6 separate regions of the Homo sapiens genome follow, and all the other regions are reported to be linked to region 3. Evidence: microRNA targets listed by miRTarBase, many of them from high-throughput screens and not tested one by one. Region 3 holds a microRNA gene; each other region holds the end of a gene's coding sequence.
The links. The annotated mature microRNA hsa-miR-484 reads UCAGGCUCAGUCCCCUCCCGAU and lies in region 3 at 903-924, opposite strand. An mRNA with a match to its seed (bases 2 to 7 or 8) in the 3' UTR can be bound and repressed. Matches are read on the target gene's strand: a 7mer-m8 pairs with bases 2 to 8, a 7mer-A1 pairs with bases 2 to 7 and ends in A, and an 8mer does both.

Region 1 (3,103 bases), not on the chromosome of region 3:
CAAGGCAGTCCAGGAAAAGCTGCCTTCTAATTCCACTGGGACTGAGTTTCTGGAAAAGCCACATGCCTCTCAAACACACACACTCAAAATCAAGACACCCATAAATTACTCATCGGGCTGGCCAGGAAGTACTGATACGACCGGAAGATGACTACTCTCTTAAAAACACTCATGAATCACATTTGATTATTTTGGAAAATGTTAAAATTTATTAATAATAGTTAACATCACATAGTTAATTAAACTAGTTATGTATTGTACATAATGACAACATCTTCACTAGACTGAGTGCTCAAGGATTTGAGATGATTCGCTATTCATCACACCCCGAAGATTGAGATCCACTGTATTTACACAAAGCAAAGCCATGTCAGCAAGGGACTGTCAACCTGATTCTGAGAACATAAACATTCAAAATTTATTTTCCAGTGTTCCTTTTTGGAAACCAACAACACATCTTTAATACCTACACACACACACATCTCTACCTTTAAAAAAAAAAAAAAAAGTGTAACTTCACAGATAGTACCTAATCTTCAAGCTTAAAATTTAAGTTAAAATTAATCTCTATTTTGTGGGCACCCTTTAGTGAACTAAAATCTACATGAAACCTTTTGGCTTTTGTGTAGCAGGAAATACCCACGTTTTGGGTCAATTAGTGCAGATGGGAGCAGCAGAGGAGCTACACCAGACAGCAAAGCAAGACTAGAGCAAACGAGAAGGACCAGCCCCTAGCCCCTCTGTGCTCCCGGGAGGACCTGGGCTGTTTTCACCTAATTACACCCAACTTTGCTTAAAAGTCGTATAATCAGACACTATTCTCAGCACAAGTTTGATAAATATACAAAAACCAGGTTCAATTTCATCGTGAGTTTCTTTCCATTCTGATCCTTGTATCCAATTCAATAGTTACATCCCTCTTTATCATATAGTATCCAGGTTTAATGTCTGTGCTTGTTTGTATTTTAGGACAGAGGCGGGCTTTCAGATTCAGAATCAACTGCACTCTTGAAAAGTAGGGATGGAAGTTTTTAAGCCACTCTCATCCCTCCCAATAGTTTGAAATAAATGTTGTGTATAAAAAAAAGAAAAACACAAAAACAGGTCAGCAGACCAATGCCAGCTCAGCCTAGGGAAGCACATGGACAATTCTTGTAAAACATTTAAAATACAAACCCAAGGTGAAACTTGCTGGGAGGGCTCAAATACACCAAAAATGTTGTCCCTGAGGTTTTATTTGGCTGTTTAATTGTTCTGTTTTGGTTTGTTGTTGAGGATTAGATACAATTTAAAAAAAGAAATTTTGGTGACTTCCTTTATCTTGTCAGAAAGCTTTAGAATACTACTGACTGCCCTAAGAATAAAGATTTCTAAGCCATGAGTCCATTTGAAACGATTCCTTTGGTTTCCTTTGCTTAACATCCCATGGAATACTGCCAAGAAAATCTCTAGATGGAGGAGCCAATTGCTGTGGTCTCTTCAGTCTATTGGCTCGGCCTCCATCTCTGTCCCTGCCTTCCACACACTTCCAAGACCACAGGGGAAGGAGGAGCCAGAAGCAACCGCTTTGCCATTCACTCACCCTGAAGAGGCTTCCCTTCTCTTCCCACAGGCGAATGAGGTATTTCTATGACTAGTCAGTATCTTCCCCTTCTGCCCTTTAACTACACTGAGGCCAATTCTGACAAGACTTGCACATCTATATACATAACAAATTAACATATAAATACATTACGTACAACTGACCATTCATTACATGTCAAGATGAAGAAGCAGATCTACTCAAGAACTAAATAAAATTTCAAATATAAATTAAAATGAAAATACAGTGATTCCACTTTTGCAGGAAAAATTTGTAAAACAAACTAAAAACTCCCCCTTCCCCAAAGGTCCATTGCTTGTGGATAACATGTGCGCCCCGCTGAGATGCGACAGCTGGCCCAACTGCAGGATGCGTCAACTCCTGGCTTTGGTTTCATTGCCCAGACTCAGGATTCCTTGATTCCAGGAATGGCAAATGCTGGAATCCACAGGGCAAATGCTTGTAGATGAGGTTAAAGAGGGGCTGCTGCGTGGATATCCATGGATTTTCCTCCACTGTCACCCCTCCACCCTCCCCACGTCTGCCTATAGGATAATCAGGCTCACATCCTCAGTGGAGACCTCCCAGATCTCTGACAGGAGAATCAGTAACAACATCAGTGCTGGGGGATGCACCCCACTTAGAAATGTCATGTTCAGGCTCCAAGGTGAAGCAACCGTATCTTCATTAGTGTCCCCATCCTGTAGAATTATACAGGGACATGGAATTTGGCAAGGGGGATTACTAAGGGAGATAATTTTCATGTTTTAGGAGAACCAATGGGAATGGTTATGATGCATGTGAACAAATCCTTATTTGGAACTCTATTTATCTTAATAGGGCCAAGCTCAGCCACCAAGCTCTACAATGAGATGCAGAGACAAAACCCAGTCCAGTGGGGTCCTCTCTGCCAAGCAAAAGCCAAGGGGTCTGTCTCTGACACAAGGGGATGACATCTTATAATTTAAAACAGGGAAGAAGGAGAGAAAGAGGAAGTCCCTTCCGATTTCAGGGGTTCTATCGCTGTCCAGCCTCACGGATGCGGCAGGCCACAGCAGTGATGAGCGCCGCCCCCTTCCCGCTGCCATCCTCTGACTGCAGGAAAGACACATCACATTTCGGAGCCAGGTCCTTCACTGTCTCATGCATGACTTTGGCAAAGCTGGAAAAGGTGGGAGGAAGACACAGGAAAAACCATCTTAGTCATGATTGGTTTGTATTTGCACTTAGAAATGAAAGCTAAGAAGCGATGCTGGAAACACAGAAATAATTAAGAAGAGGAGAAGGATGACAGCTATAATGTATTAAACATTTACTATATATTATTAAGTACCAGAAAACCGTGGCTTGGAGACACTAGTACTATGCCCAATTTCCACATCATATCAGCCATTAGGAGAGCTAGGATTCAATTCTGGGACAAACGTCTGAGATCCTGGCAAACTGTGTTCTTAAAACTAATAGTCAGTAAAAGAGAAGTTCAACAACCATGGAAGCCACAAGTGTGCCTAACAGAGGAGC
Region 2 (3,089 bases), not on the chromosome of region 3:
CATTCTTATCAGTGTAACAGTAATATATATTGATGTTATTTCTAGTCTTTTAGTTTGGGATAGTGAATTAAAATAACATTTTTGTCTTCCTCTCTACAGAATGAAACATTTTTGTGTCATCGGTTTACTAAGTTTGTGATGAAATACAATTTGATGTCCAAGGATAACCTGATTGTACCAATTTTAGAAGAGGAAGTACAGAATTCAGTTTCTGGGGAAAGTGAAGCATGAAGGGAATCATAGGAAAAATGTACTGATCATATAATTAACATTATGTACTGTATATATCATTTTAGACACATCAATCATGTATCCATATTATAGCTTCTTTGTTTAGTATAGGTTTTTGTATGCTGGGTTTGCCTTTTAAAATGGGAAATACTTTTTAAGTTATTCATAAGCTGTATATTCACCAGTGTGGCACTCATGGTTTTTAAATAAGATTAGTATTATCTGTTTATAATGCCTGTTAATAAAAGAATTTACAGTTTGGTAAAATTGCTGCTAAACAATCATTGGATCACAATCCTCATCAGACAAACCCATCTGTAAAAAAAATGAGGGAGAGCTTGAGGTTTCACACAAGCCATTTACTAAAGAGGTAGAAATGTTTTCTATTGGTTTTACCTTGAGTTTAGATATCCTAAAAAATTCTGTAGTACGTAGTTTTGTCTTACCTGTTAACTTTCCCCAATTGAGATAAAAGTGTTTTAAAATTCTGTTTATAGTTTTTGATATGCATATATAATTATGTGTATATCTAAATACAAATGCAAATGAAGCATTAGTAATACTTAAATAATTTTACTGTGCTACATAAAGTATAACATACTTGGAAAGGATTTACCGTTCTGCAACAACGGACTGGTACATACAGGATGATCACAATGGTAAGGCACATAAATTATTTTCCCACTGGAAACCTGCCCTGTCCACCCCTTCTCATTTCCCTTAACCTTATCTTCAAACTACTTTAGCTGAGAAGCTTTTCACCAGACTGAGTTAGTGGTGGCTTATACCTATTTATATTTGTATTAATTGCTTACAGATTATACCTCATATTAGCAATTACATTACACTACAAGAAAATGTATTTGCATAGGCTCTTGCTTATCTTTGTTTTGCAAAATTGTTCTACTTAGAAAACAGTCCTTAAAATAGTTTGACTCTTCCTGTTAGTAATATATTAATCTTTCATTTAACCAGCTAGGCAGCATTAAATAGAATTGAAGAAATACCATAGTATTTATTTTACACCCCCTCTCCCACGAAGTTTATGTTTGGATTACATGCACGTGTGAGATTATTTGCAATAATTCATAGGTTCCAAGGGTGTTGATGAATAGTCATACATTTTTTTGGACTTTGTTATAATTCATTGTGGTAAGAATGATTGAAATGCAGATTTAACAATCTTATAATCTATTGAATGCCATTTTTGATAAAGCACTGGAGGTCTTATTGCCAAACTGATTGTAATGAGGCAGTAAGGGTGAAAACATTGTACATGTTGTGAAGAAAGTATTTAAATCCAACTTTTGAACAGATTTAACAAACATGAGGAACTTTTTTATTTAGAAGGATAATTTTGAAGATGAAAATGTATTCATCTTAATTGTTTTTTCAAATTTAAGGGAATAATTTATACCATCTTTTCAGACAAGAATGTACAGCAAAAATAAGGGGAACAGTAGTATACTGAGAGTGTGTGTATGTATAGTGTATGCCTTTCCAAGCTTGCCAGTCTTTTTGGCTTTGAACACTGCCCATCAGCTACAGTCATTACTGTTCCCCAACCCACAACTATCTTTTAAGAAGTCTTAGTTCACAGTGAAAGGAATGATGACTTTGAAATTATGGATTTATATTAATGGCACTATAAACCAATGGTAATGGTAATTTTTAAACTTGCTAAATATTGAGAAACTAAACTACTAAGTTAATAAATTATATATAGCAGTGTAGCTGTTCTCTCTAGATGGTGTCTCACAATGGATTTCTGTTGCTTGACTATTTTCTTAGTGAATATTTATACTAAGGTAGTGACTGAGATTTGGTGATCTGGCTGAGTATTTTGAAACACATTTTGAATAATATGGCTTAGTGTTAACGGGGACTTAAATATGATTTTTTTTTCTTACTCATTTCACCTTCCCTGTACTGTATGTTTGGAATTGATCATAAAACATCTCCAAAAGAAAATAATCAGTTTGTAGTCTTGCTTTTGTATTCATGTTGATAATCTTACTAATTGTGAAGTTGATTCACTACTATACTAGGTAAGACCTAAGTGAAACAGTTCCTGTTTTTCCTTAATACTGTTTTCAGAATTTTGAAAATGTACTTATATATACATAAATACTACTAAAAAATTAATGAGCCTGGCAAACCATTGATTTATAAAAGTAAGTGTTCTAAGAGGGGAACAAGACAGTTCTGTGTGATAAGGAAGTTAGGCTCCACTTTTTGTTTGAATTACCCTATGTATATCCGAAGGTAAACTTAGGCTTTTCTTTCCAAAAGATCGTATAGTCAATTCATTCTTTTTCTCCTATCACATCTGGGAAAGTAGCTAACTTTTAACTATTTATGTTCCCATAAGTAACCCTTCTTTTGTGTGTATACATTTCCTTTTCTCTGACTTGAGATGTCAAATTTGGATTTCTAGAACAGTTTCTCAGTTAAATTCTTGATGACTTAACAACTTTTACTATCAGAATACAATTAGAAATCCTTGGTCAGGCACAGGGGCTCACGCCTGTAATCCCAGCACTTTGGGAAGCCAAGGCAGACAGATCACCTGAGGTCAGGAGTTCGAGACCAGCCTGACCAACATGGAGAAACCCTGTCTCTACTAAAAATACAAAAATTAGCCGGGCGTGGTGCTACTCGTGAGGCTGAGGCAGGAGAATCGCTTGAACCCGGGAGGTGGAGGTTGCGGTGAGCTGAGATCGTGCCATTGCACTCCAGCCTGGGTAACGAGCAAAACTCCGTCTCAAAAACTCCGTCTCAAAAAAAAAAAATCCTTGATTACATTGTTAGTAAGGACTGTGTTACGATTATAAACACATTTATTGGTTGATGTCAAA
Region 3 (3,103 bases):
AAGTCAACTTGTTTCTGGGCAAACTTTAAAAATAAACTCCTAAGGTAGCATTTAGCTAGCAGCTAGCACATCCTAAATCGTGTCTAGATTTAACTTACACAATATGTGCTTTGCTTTTTTCCTAATTTGCAACAGAAAATAGTAATCAGCTGGTAGTTTCAGAAATCACCCTTTTGCTGAGTCTTAAATTTTTTTTTATTCCAGGGAAACGTGAAGATTGTGGGGCGCTATTTTTTTTTTTAAAGCAAACCACACAGCATATCTGGCCACCTAAAACACAAAGTGTTTGAAACTAACCGTAAGATTTCCTTTCTGCTCGCCCAACCTGTCACTGGAAACGCAGTATTCATTTGTAACCAGCTTTGGAGCAGGGCTTTTAAAAATAACGTTTTCTTGCTAAAGTCCCCAAAAATCTCTTGATTCTTGGTGGCAATGTCCAGTTGAGTCTTTGCACACACTGTATTTTTGCCAACTGGGTCGCAACTTTGCGAGAACTCCGGGGGACCTCGTAGGAAGCCAGGTTGGCAGTTATTTTTTTCTCCACTTGCCACTAGGTTGCACTAGATTTAGGATGCTGGGGAATATGCGCCATTTAATTTTTAAAAATAAAGTAGGACCATCACGTGACGAGACCCGAGAGAGGAAAAAAAAAAAGCCGAAGGGACAGGGTTTTTCATTGAAATCCCGTTCAAATCGCCTTCCCTCCAAAGCCTGAAAGAGCTGAATTCTATTAAATCCTGGTTGGCAGGTTTTTTCCTCGGGTCCACGTCACGAGCTCATTCTCCGCTTCAAGGTTCCTTTCGACTCCACAACGTGAAGCCAGGGGGAAGGCCTCCTTAAACTGGGGGTTTTCGCCAAAAAAGCCAGGGTCACCCCCCGGGAAAGTCCCTATTTAGGGGTTTATCGGGAGGGGACTGAGCCTGACGAGGCTGCAGGGCCGCGAGGCCCCGCCCCCCCCGGGGTTCCCAGCATGCCCCGCGCGGACAGGACGCGGCGGCGGAGGCGGGGCGAGGAAGGGGCGGGGCGAAGAGGAGAGAAGGGCGTCGGTTTTGCGACAGGGGCGGTGCGGTGCGGAAGCGGAAGTGAAGGGTGCGCTTGGCGGCGGCGGCGGGAGCTGCGGAGTCGGGAATCAAAACAAAGGGCCTGGGGGGGGCGGGGGGAAGGCGGCGGGGCCGGAATGTGAGCGGAGGTGGAGCCGGCGGCAGAGGTGAGTTTGCAGACAGTCCTGCGACCAGACCCCGGCAGGCTCTGCTCCGAGGCCAGCGGGGCGGGACGGAGGACAGTGTCCCCTCTTTCCCCGCCTATTGCTGGTGGGATGGTGGTGGAGAGGGGAGGTTAGCTAACTGGGACGCGCCAGTTGGGCCCCCCACGAAAGAGTTGGCTTGTCTCCCTTTCGGGTCCATTCACTACTGTCACTGTTGGCGCCGCTGTTCCCCTTCGAGGGCATTTGGCTCCCCGCCCGCCCCTGTCTGACCCCTGGTGGGGCCCTCCAGGAGTGAAGTGCACAGCTGGAAGGTTAAGAGAGAAGGAAAGGGGCGGGTGTTTTTGCAACACACTCCCCCCTCCCCGGCCGTTTTGCATTCTCCTCGGCCTTTTAGCAACACATAGGGTGTAGTCTCAGGGTTGACAATGTCTAGGGCTTCAGCCACTCTCACTAGTAGTTGTAACGCGACCTCGTGATACACCTTTTAGAGTTTCTCAAGCACCTTTCCGGTATTACCAAGAGCTGTCCAATTGCATTTGTGTCTTTTGGACTTCTCTGAGCGGTAAATATTCTTCTCTTTTGCATATCGGTGTATTGAAACCTAAACTGTTTTCCTATTTATTAAGCTTTATTCGTTCAACAGTTATTTATTAAAATATGCCAGGCATTGTACTAAGGACAGGAGTTGGAATAGTGGATAAGAAAACATAGTCTCTGCTGTCATGGAGTTTATAGCCTAATGGGGGAGAAAGATAATAAAATAAGCTAAAAAGGCCGTTTTGGACAGAAGAGCTATGGGGGAGAAAACGGTAATGGGATGGGGTGGTGTGGGGTCAAAGACTAGATTGGGTGCTAAGGAAACAACATTTGCTAAATGTTCCCCGTGGATTACCTCATGTAATCCAAACAACGGCCTTGTAAGGTGGTTTCTATTATTATCACACCCATTTTAGAGATGGGATCTGAGGTTCAGAGAGGTTGTGAGTTGTCCAAAGCTGCACCGCAGTCAAATTGGAGACCAAAATGCAGACAGTCGACAGAGCCTATGCTCTCCTCATTGAATTGGTCAAAAGACTTGAAGAGAGTGACAGAAAGGAGACTGTCGCTCAAGTCAAACAGAACCTGCTTTTGGCTACCTAAGTTGCTTCGTGGATGGTATTTGGGAAGTTTTCAGGGTGCAGGCACCTGAAAGTTTTTACTTTTAATCGCTTGTATTGAGCAGTATTGAAGGCACCTTGATGTAGTGGAAAGGGGTGAACAAGCCTAATCTTGTGTCAGGCTCGCTACAAAACTTCATTAAGTTTCTTTTTCTCTCTCTGCAAAAATGTAGCTAATTTCTCCCCTGTCTATTTCACAGGATTATTGCAAAAATTATATAAGAGGATCCCACCGTCTGGGTTTTTTTCATCATTATATTCCTTGTGCCAAGCACAGGCCTGCTGCATAGTAGATACTAAGTAAATATTTGCTGAATGAAGACATAAGTAATGTTAAGTGAAAATACTTTATAAACTAGATTATACTGTGAATGTTAGCTCACTTTCAGGATTTGGCTTTGAAGAAGTTTGAGAGAATGTTTAAGTTATGAACACTGTGAATATCACAGATTCTTACGATTTTGAGAGGAGTTTTTTGGGGGACATAAAACCTGTATCTAATAGGAAAGACAAGAATCGTAATTTACTATCAGTGGTAGCAGTTAAATCCATCTCCAAATTAACCACTCCCAATAGTGTGTAGTAGGTAATGTTTACTTTGTATTTACAGAGTAGGGAGCATTTTGGTTGGCACAAGAGATACAGTGGTGAAAATAGACAGTGGGGTTCATTTATCTAATTTTTTTTTTCTCTGTAATGCAGTGGCGGGGAGAAATTAGCCACATTTTGCATAGGAGGAAAC
Region 4 (3,103 bases), not on the chromosome of region 3:
CAATAAGGATATATTGTTTTGTATGCCTGGGCTAAAGGATTGGATGAGCTATAGAGCTTCCTGGTACATTTAAAGGTTAACTTTTCCCCCTAACCGGTTGAAATAGGGAAAACTCGCTAATCACAATCATCACAAAGCAAATATAAACAAAATTCCTAGTTCCCTTGCCCATGCAGCTAAAAGAGTTAAGACACCAGAATAGCTAGGTGCTTTTCAGTTTCAGTTGAGGAAAGGATGCTATTCTTAACCATAAATACTCTCATTTTGTCTTTCTTTTTTTAAAGGGCTTACCTGTTGCTTTAGACAAACATATTCTTGGTTTTGACACAGGAGGTAAGTGATTTTGTTTAAATTCAAACTATTTTTTTTACAGACTGAATACTTGGGAGGAAATAAATGGCCTTAAATGTAAAAATTATGTATTGAAGCAGTGTTCTTTTCTCATAAAACAGATGCAGTTCTTAATGAAGCTGCTCAAATTCTGCGATTGCTGCACATAGAGGAGCTCAGAGAGCTACAGACAAAAATCAACGAAGCCATAGTAGCTGTTCAGGCAATTATTGCTGATCCAAAGACAGACCACAGACTGGGAAAAGTTGGAAGATGAACACTTGAGGACTTCAGCTTCTCACCTACTTAGTACAGTTGGGAACCATACACTTCTGGCATGTTTGGAAATCAAAATGTCACATTCTCGGGGGAGGAAGCCCAGAAAATTGGGTATGTTCTAGAGATTTACCACCATTGCTTATTGCTTTTTTCTTTAATAAAGTTTAGGAAAGTAGAATTTTTATTATGTACTGTATGTTTGCATAAATCACCTTTCTCCTTTGTGGTTAAGGCATATATGCCAACCCCCAGCTTTGTCCTAGAGACAATATAGATCCTTAAGTCATAGGAAAACTTAAAACACTTTATTGGAGTAATCTAGAAAATTTTAAAATTGTTACATCTTTGGTATTTATAAATGTGATACTTTACTTTCTGTGGGTACTTCTATAGAGGCACTACAGGATCAGAAAATGCAAATTGAATCATTTTAGCACCTTTTGATATAAATAGAAATGCACTGATGCAGAGGTAAAAAATCTTAGAACTTTTGTTGGGAAACTATAAATAATTGGTCCTTTCCCATCAGTTCTGCATTGGCTTCTCCAACTGTCAAGGTTTAGGATTATATTGTTATATTGATCACATGTGCTTTAATTTCTTGGCCAGAAGGAATCCATGGCAAAAATCAGGTTTAGAGTCTTAAACTCTAATTCTTAGTTGAATGAATTTGATCTTTTAAATATTAATGATAAATGTTTACAAGAAGTTGCTTTAATAAGCAACAGTTAAAATTCTGTTACCTTTTTAAACTTGCAATAACAACCTTCATTTTTAAAAATACAGTAGTAAAGATTGAGGTATCAGCTTTTCACAAAAGTCTTTTTGCACTACAAAATGTTCATCTTGGATGCTCAGGAACGTCTAATGGCCAATTCCTTTTTTACTTTCTTTGCCTTTGCAGTCACTGTTCTTTAGGGTCCAGGTTCTGATTGTAAACTCCAAGTCTTCCTTTACATTACTGTACTTACTTTCTTCCTGTGAGAGAAGAGCAGGGGTGGGACAGGGTGGTGGGTGAGTATATTGTAACCAAGTTGCAACAGCAAGTCTTTGCATTTTGTGTATAAACTAGGTAGATTTAAGGTAGTAAAGACTGGCCCTCAGGGCAGGAAGAAGGCAATGGTGGCAGTGTCACAGGCAGCAGGGGTAATCAAATACCATATATATCCCTTCTCTACCCTGCTAATTTAAAGGAGCATCCTAAAGCATACTTTTTACCTGTTGGGCAGTAGGGGTAGACTGCAGTTATCCCGTAGAGGTGAGATCGTTGTTCTGGGAGATACTCATCAGTAAACTGGCCACTATGTTTATTTACTGATACAACACCATCCCTGGTAACAGAAAGGAAGAGTGAATTCAGGGACAGTCATTTACTAGATAAAGAAGTCAGTCAGCCACAGAAAATCAGTTGCAATAGAGGAAAATTTCTGGCAGCCTTCTCTGTCCCAGGGCTGGTGCTAAAGCCATACTGAAGTTTGAAGACCATTGCTCTAAATCCATTGCTCATCTCTAGCTGCATGTTAGAATCACATGATGAGCTATCAAATCAGAGTTGTAGGGCATGGTGTAAAGGGCTTAGACTTTAATGTTCCACAGTTCCTCATTTGAGAACTAGTCTAAATAGTATTTTTCGGTCCCTCAGACAATATGTCCACAGTGTCAAAAGCCAACTTAAGCCCTGTAATATAGCTCATGGTATCAAGGGTAGTCTTATTCTCTAAAGAACATATTTAGATTAATATGCTCCCTTTTGAGACATTATCCAATAGCTTTGCTACTTTTTAAGCTATATGTGAGCAATACCATTCGATTTCTGGGTGAAGTAAAAGGATGATTTCAAAAACATGAAAGGATGAAAAACATCCTTGAAGGATCTTATCTGCCAATGAGGAGGTGATGAAACAAAAGCCTCAGAGGGCTTAATGAGTCAAGTCAGGTACTGACTTTTGGTAAAACAAGTGGTGTGTCCTCTGGAACAGTTGGCCTTTTCAGGCTTGTCCAGAATTTGTGGGGCTCACCTCCTCCAGTCTGTGTGGTAGAAGTGATCTGCATAGCTTACGATGCTGAAGGGGTACTTGAGGTTGTTTTGAATGACACGCCGTCCAGTTCCATCAGGTAGTGTACACTCCAGTTTTTTGGTTCCTTTTAAAACAAAGGGGGAAAATGAGGTCCTTCAGCTGCTTTGCCAAAAATGATAGTGACATAGTGATAGTGACACAGTGATAGAATGGGGAAATAGGATATTTTACTTCCATTACAGTCATAGATTAGCAACTGTAAAATTACCTGTCCTATTACTAGTCTCCAGTTTTTAGTAGAGATTCAAACTTTCAATCCTTTTTTGGAAGACAGGATTGCATTTACTGAAATCTGGTAAGTTTCTGCCAAAGTAGGGCATTAAACATAATTATTTTTATAATTTGTGTGATTTCAAGCCTTAGCTTATAAATTATAACATCTGGGTAAATACTTGCCCTTTGTAAGCTATGTCTAT
Region 5 (3,103 bases), not on the chromosome of region 3:
TGAGGCTTGCAGTTTTTGTGCAGTCATGGCAAGTTCAGTGGCAAAGCCAACGTCAAGTTTCAGGGCCGCAGAGCCTCTTCTGTACTGCCTGGGTGGCAGTGCTGCAGGGACCCACTCTATCGCTGCTTTCACATTGCTTTTCCCTTTGTAAGCAGCACAACCCAACTGTTGTTTTTTTTTTTTTTTTGAGTAGGAGTTTCACTCTTGTTCCCCTGGCTGGAGTGTAATGGCACGATCTTGGCTCACTGCAACCTCCGCCTCCCAGGTTCAAGCGATTCTCCTGCCTCAGCCTCCTGAGTAGCTGGGATTACAGGCACCCGCCACCACGCCTGGCTAATTTTTGTATTTTTAGTAGAGACAGGGCTTCCCCATGTTGGCCAGGCTGGTCTTGAACTCCTGACCTCAAGTGATCCACCCGCCTCGGCCTCCCAAAGTACTGGGATTACAGGCATGAGCCACTGCACCCAGCCTTTTGTTTTTGAGATGGGGTGTCACTCTGTCACCTAGGCTGGAGTGCAATGGTACAATCACACCTCATAGCAGCCTCCATCTCCCGGGCTTAAGTGATCCTCCCGAGCAGCTGGGATCACAGGCACTCACCACCACAGTTGGCTAATTTTTTGTAGAAGAGGGGGTTTCACCATGTTGCCCAAACTGGTGTCAAACTCCTGGGCTCAAGCAATCTGCCTGCCTCAGCCTCCCAAAGTGCTGGGATTCAGGCATGAGCCACTGCTCCCAGCCTACAACCCAACTTTCTTTTTTTTGAGACAGAGTTCGCTCTGTTGCCTAGGCTGGAGTGGAATGGCGTGATTTCGGCTCACTGCAACCTCTGCCTCCCAGGTTCAAGTGATTCTCCTGCCTCAGCCTCCCGAGTAGCTGAGATTACAGGCGCGTGCCACCACGCCAGGTTAATTTTTGTATTTTTAGTAGTGATAGGGTTTCGCCATGTTGGCCAGGTTGATCTCGAACTCCTGGCCTCAGGTGATCTACCTGCCTTGGCCTCCCAAAGTGCTGGGATTACAGGCGTGAGCCACTGCGCCCGGCCGACACCCAACTTTCAGAGCATCTTTGGTTCCTGGGGTGAGAGAAGCCAGACCCCAGCACCAGTCCTATCCCACAGGGAGCTCGGTGCTGCCACCTCTGCAGCTGCAGAACCCGGCAGGCTCTGGAGAGCTGCCCCCCGGTGGGAGGTAGCAGAATGGAGCCAGCGCACCCCTTTCCCGATGTCTCGAGGCCCTTCTGCTCAAAATTCTTTTGTAGGCACCGGTAACCTGATTCTAAGGTCCCCAGGAGATGGATCACCTGATGACATGAGAATGTCTTGTTTTTGGAAAGCCTGGTCATGCAATTTAGCAGAAGGTTTGCGGTGAGGTGGAAGGCATTTATTTGCTTTGTCTTGCTAACCCTCAAAATCAAAGCCTGTCCCAGCCTGACAGCTTCCAGCAGAAAGTGTCAGAACCAGAGGCCCAGCCAAGGCCCAGGCAGGGCAGGCGGTCCTCCTGGGCCCTGGCATTGTTCTTACACATGGAGGGCATGGCCATCTTCTCTTTCAGGGACAGGCTGGCCTGACATGGAAGGTGAAACAAGGCAGCAGCCCCTGCCTCCAGGAGAACTCTGCAGACTGCAGTGCCGGGGAGCTGAGGGGTCCTGGGAAGGAGCTATGGAGTCCCATCCAGCAGGTTACAGCCACATCCTCTAAATGGGCGCAATTTGTCCTGCCACCTAGAAAAAGTTCACATGTGGACAGTGAGCAGCCAAGGTCTCTTCAGAGGGACCCCAGGCCAGCTGGTCCAGCACAGGCTAAGCAAGGGACCCCCAGAGCACAGGCCTCAAGAGAAGGCCTCAGCAGGCCCACTGCCGCTGTCCAGCTTCCTCGGGCCACACACCCCGTCACATCTGGGTCTGAGAGGCCTTGCGGGAAGACCTCATGGGACGCAAGGACTCCCTGGGCAGAGGGTGGGCCCCTGGTCCTGGAGGCACAGAATCCTCGACCCACACGACTATGTGACCTCTTTATAACTGGGGAAGACTTCGATGATGATGTGTGATCTGGGACTGGCAGGTTATTAATCGAGATACACTTGTTAGGAGGGACAGGGTTCCCCTAAGGCACTTTTAAAGATACTCTGTAAGAACCATTAACAATAAACTTACTGTCAATCATTTCTCTCTATGCAAACGTCATTGGTTAAAGTGCTGATGCCATTTAATTAGATTGTTTACAAATTTAACAGGATGGCTACAAAGAGATCTTATTTTAAAAGCAGCTGATGGTTTGGAAATGAGAGAACTACAGTGGTGAAGAGACCAGGAGGCAGCTCTCAGTGAAACCAACATTGCGGATGCCCTTCGTGAGCCTTCTCAGTCCCAGCAGGAAGCCCACAACACTGGCCTCCCCAGCCTGCCTGCTGACAACACCTAGGCTTACTTTATCTAAAATCAGAGTGTACCAGGTCTGTAGCAGAAAATAATCAACTAAATGTCAGGGACCTATGAGTCATTTAAAACAAAAGAGAAAGTGAAAGCCATTAGGCAAGCTATGTGCTGGGCTGCTAACGTAGCCCCTGCAGGGAGGGGTCAGGAGCGCGCTGCAGTGAGCCTTGGGTCTCGCAGGCCCAGCCCTGCTGCAAGGAGCCAGGGCACCCAGGAAACATCAGCACACACACACACAGGGACCCTCCCTTCATGTCACTTGTTTTGCTGCCCTAAATGGCTTCTTGCACCCTAACCCCTGATCCTGGAAGAAGGCAGAGAAACTGGCCCGTACAGAGACCTGCAATTCTACGCAAGCTTAACACAACTATGAGACAGAAGAGGGGCACGCAGAAGAGGTGGGCAAAAGTGGTCACAACGGCGGGGGATGCTTTGAATACTGGATGGTGTCCAGAGCCGCTCCGATGTCATAGTTCTTGGTCTGCAGGAGCCTGGTGAGCCAGCCGCCTTCATCAGAGAAGCCCATGGACAGCATCTGGGAGAGGGACTCAATCAGCCGCGGGTCAGCCTCTGCCGAAACAGTAAGGAAGCCATGAGGAGTGGTGCTGAGCCCTGTGAGTGACCCGAAACACATACCCTGCTGCCTTGGCCAGCCAGGACCAGGGTCTGC
Region 6 (3,083 bases), not on the chromosome of region 3:
GCCATCAAGGTAAGAACTGCTTCCTCTGAGGCCCTTCTCACATGTGTGATCACTGCTTCCTTTCTCCCTCAGCTGGGTGCCCGTGGGCTGTACCTGGACCAAGGGAAGGGACTGGATCTGTCTTGCTCCCTGTGGTAGCTCTGGACACAGAACACAGCCTGGCACATGGCAATGTTTACTGGGCTCTGTTCTCCAGCTCCCATCTGAGTCTGCAGGCCAGCCCCAAACCAGCCCGGGAACCCCTTACTTAGCTGTGCCAGCCGTTTCTCCAAAAAGCTGTTTCCCGACTTCCTTCCTTCCAGCCACTGGCTGTCCTTTGTTCCCAGTGACCAGGACACCCAGCAGCCTTTGTACTTCCACCCTCAGGCCCTACTACCCCTGCTCCACACCACTGTCCACCAGCCCCGCACCCAGTCTGTCTTCCAGGCCCGCACAGGTCTGGTGATAGGTGGCAAGTGTCCCTGCTCTCATCCCACACGCTGCTGGGGCTCTCTTTCCTCTCCAGTCTGAGCGGCTGAGGTCCCAGCACACCTAAGTAGGAACACTAGGAGCCGCCCAAGAGCAACAGGAAACCACCATCACCCCTTCCCCTCCGAGTGGGATAAGAAACTAAAAAGTGGAGGATCCCAAAGGTATATGCCTATGGGAGCCAGGCAGGTATCAGAGAAGCACAGTCGCCAGGTGGACTGGCGCAAGTGTCCTGTATGTGGACACCTGTGCGGGGAGGGGCTGACAAGCTGGAGCTTGCAGGCTCCATCCAAAGGGACGAGCTGCTATTCAGTGTCAGCTGACTGCTGCCGTTCAGGAATCAGGCCCGCCGTGGACAGCTCTAGTTTTCTCTTTCAGGAGAATCCAGAATCCAAAACCAAGATTTTTATATAAAATCTGTCTTCAAATGTTGGCAACTTACTCAATTTTTAAAAAAACACTACAGATCACAAGTTTGCAACCTCTGGGAAGGAGAAGCCTCCTTCCCATCTTAGAGGCATCCCTGTAACTGCCCACATCATCCTCTTACCTATAGGATCCCATTCAGAACGGCATAGAGTTCTAGAATCTTCTTTCCCTTTTTCCCAATCAAAATCCCAATTTCTTCACTGTAGTAAGGTCCAGCTAGTTGGGAAGCAATCTGATTAAAATAAAACAACTTCCAGACCCCCAATTCAATAAATACTATGAGGATTACCATATTTCACAAGTTAACTAAACTTATTATGTTTCAATTAATATTAGGTTGGTGCAAAAGTAATTGCAGTTTTTGCCATTCTAGAACTAGAGGCAATGGGCCAAGGCACATAACCGTAGGTCAATCAGGAAAGATGCCAAGTGCTAAGCTGCGTCAGCATTCAACTCCTTTAATCCTATGAGGTAGGTAGTTATCATCTCTCTTTTACAGAAACACAAAAGGAGGTTTACGGAGGTTAAACTACTTGCCCAAGGTCCCTCACCCTAGTAAGTGGCAACACTAGGTTTGCCTGGAACCAAAGTCTACGCAGTCAACCATGCTATGCAGTATTACTTCTCTCTGTGCTATTATATAACCTCATGTAATGGGCACAACTTCAGAGGGGGCATTCTTGAGATGTGGCCTTCTAGACTAAAGTCACTCAAGTGGTCAGTGCTATGGTTTGAATTTGTGTCCCTTGAAAATTCATGTTGCAACAAATCTCCATGCAAGTCTTTTTTTTTTTTTTTTTTTTTGGAGATGGAGTCTGGCTCTGTGGCCCAGGCTGGAGTGCAATGGCTCACCGCAACCTCCGCCTCCCAAGTTCAAGCTGTTCTCCTGCCTCAGCCTCCCAAGTAGCTGGGATTACAGGCATGCACCACCATGCCCACCCCTTGGCTAATTTTGGTTTTTTAGTAGAGACAGGGTTTCACCATGTTGGCCAGGCTGGTCTCAAAACTCCTGACTTCAAGTGATCCCCCTGCCTCGGCCTTCCAAAGTGCTGGGATTACGGACGTGAGCCTCCATGCCTGGCCCCAAGACAAGAGCCTTGAGCAGAGGTCCTAGCTGCAGTCCACCTGCACATTCCTGTTGTTTAGCTGTGTTCTTGCCAAGTCACACTCAGTATCTAACCTAACACAGAAAGATTCTCAAAAATGGGACTCAGCTCACAGAAAATGTTAAAGGGGATAAAAACCTATCCCCTTGGACCCCTAGAGGTCCAAATGGGGCCTTCAGATACCAACAGGGCTCCTATGCAGACAGCTGGTGCTCACTGCTGGAGAAGAAAAAAGGAAGCTGGCCTTTCCAGGCAGTTCTCAGTTCTGTTAGGAGCAAGGGGCAAGAAGGACCAAGAAAGGCCTGGAGAAATATGCTGGCATCAACAGCATTTCCAACTAAGTCCTCATGTCATATACCCAAGGACCCCACCACCCAAAAGTATGAGAATAAGCTCTCAATCAGGCCTTTGTTCCTATTGTTACCCTCTTTATTCCAAAACAATTACACATTTCAACTTTTCAAAAGCAACATCTGGGTAAGTTAGGAATATTCACAGCTTCTTACACAGTGTCAGAGAAAGAGACTATCTGAGCTCACCAGGTATCTGCTGTGTGTTGGGGAAACTGAAAAACAAGCAAAAGTATAACTACAATCTGGACTTTTTTCTTTTTTAAATAAAGTTTTTTTTTTCCATTTTTCTTCTCATACTGTGAATTGTTCTTGACTCCTTTTCTTGACATTCAGTTTTCAGAATTTCCATCTTTCTTCTGGAACTAATGTGCTGTTCTGAAAGAAAATGGAGACAAACACAGAATTACTGAAGGTTTCAGTTCACAGTTACAGTTCCTAACTGGTGACAACAGAGAGACTAAGGTACTCTCCCGCTCTAAGATCCCATTTATAAGGGAATAATCATTTATCTCCCAAGTCTATTTATGTATGCCCCATCTCATTTTACAAAAGAATGTGAGACAGCTAGTTCATAATTAAGCTGATGACAACTTAAATACAAATAACAAAACAAACTCAATAATAACTAAGAAAGTGGTATGTGACAACATAAGGAGATGAGGTAATTCCAGGCACACCTCTCACAGTGCAAGGCCAAAAACACAGTGTAAATTTCAATTAGATGAAC

Region 1: the mRNA of HK2 is a reported target of hsa-miR-484. Seed matches in the 3' UTR shown: 8mer at 2,238-2,245 and 8mer at 2,139-2,146.
Region 2: miRTarBase lists MOB4 as a target of hsa-miR-484. Seed matches in the 3' UTR shown: 7mer-m8 at 2,378-2,384 and 7mer-A1 at 2,823-2,829.
Region 4: the mRNA of RTRAF is a reported target of hsa-miR-484. The part of its 3' UTR that is shown has no 7-base or 8-base seed match.
Region 5: miRTarBase lists SQSTM1 as a target of hsa-miR-484. The part of its 3' UTR that is shown has no 7-base or 8-base seed match.
Region 6: the mRNA of RPN2 is a reported target of hsa-miR-484. The part of its 3' UTR that is shown has no 7-base or 8-base seed match.

Annotation. Positions count from the first base shown.
Region 1 is chr2:74,890,438-74,893,540 of GRCh38, reverse strand. It overlaps HK2 (hexokinase 2), which reads right to left. Exons shown (of 18, transcript NM_000189.5): 18 at 182-2,744. The coding sequence ends at 2,600. Among named protein-coding and RNA genes, the nearest start is that of LINC01291, 17 kb to the left of the region's middle.
Region 2 is chr2:197,550,416-197,553,504 of GRCh38, forward strand. It overlaps MOB4 (MOB family member 4, phocein), which reads left to right. Exons shown (of 8, transcript NM_015387.5): 8 at 100-3,089. The coding sequence ends at 231. It overlaps HSPE1-MOB4 (HSPE1-MOB4 readthrough), which reads left to right. Exons shown (of 9, transcript NM_001202485.2): 9 at 100-3,089. The coding sequence ends at 231. Among named protein-coding and RNA genes, the nearest start is that of MOB4, 36 kb to the left of the region's middle.
Region 3 is chr16:15,641,122-15,644,224 of GRCh38, reverse strand. MIR484 (microRNA 484) reads right to left here and starts at 931; the gene lies at 853-931. MARF1 (meiosis regulator and mRNA stability factor 1) reads left to right here and starts at 1,071. Exons shown (of 27, transcript NM_014647.4): 1 at 1,071-1,207. It also overlaps a transcript of NDE1 not described here.
Region 4 is chr14:52,003,910-52,007,012 of GRCh38, forward strand. It overlaps RTRAF (RNA transcription, translation and transport factor), which reads left to right. Exons shown (of 8, transcript NM_016039.3): 7 at 285-333; 8 at 453-3,103. The coding sequence ends at 607. It overlaps NID2 (nidogen 2), which reads right to left. Exons shown (of 22, transcript NM_007361.4): 20 at 2,628-2,751; 21 at 1,828-1,940; 22 at 900-1,587. The coding sequence ends at 1,577. Among named protein-coding and RNA genes, the nearest start is that of RTRAF, 16 kb to the left of the region's middle.
Region 5 is chr5:179,836,336-179,839,438 of GRCh38, reverse strand. SQSTM1 (sequestosome 1) reads right to left here. Exons shown (of 8, transcript NM_003900.5): 8 at 1,361-3,003. The coding sequence ends at 2,846. It overlaps MRNIP (MRN complex interacting protein), which reads left to right. Exons shown (of 7, transcript NM_016175.4): 7 at 1,554-2,163. The coding sequence ends at 2,048. Among named protein-coding and RNA genes, the nearest start is that of SQSTM1, 17 kb to the right of the region's middle. RefSeq lists enhancers at 2,445-2,594, 2,376-2,670.
Region 6 is chr20:37,240,951-37,244,033 of GRCh38, reverse strand. RPN2 (ribophorin II) reads right to left here. Exons shown (of 17, transcript NM_002951.5): 17 at 2,415-2,731. The coding sequence ends at 2,719. Among named protein-coding and RNA genes, the nearest start is that of GHRH, 19 kb to the left of the region's middle.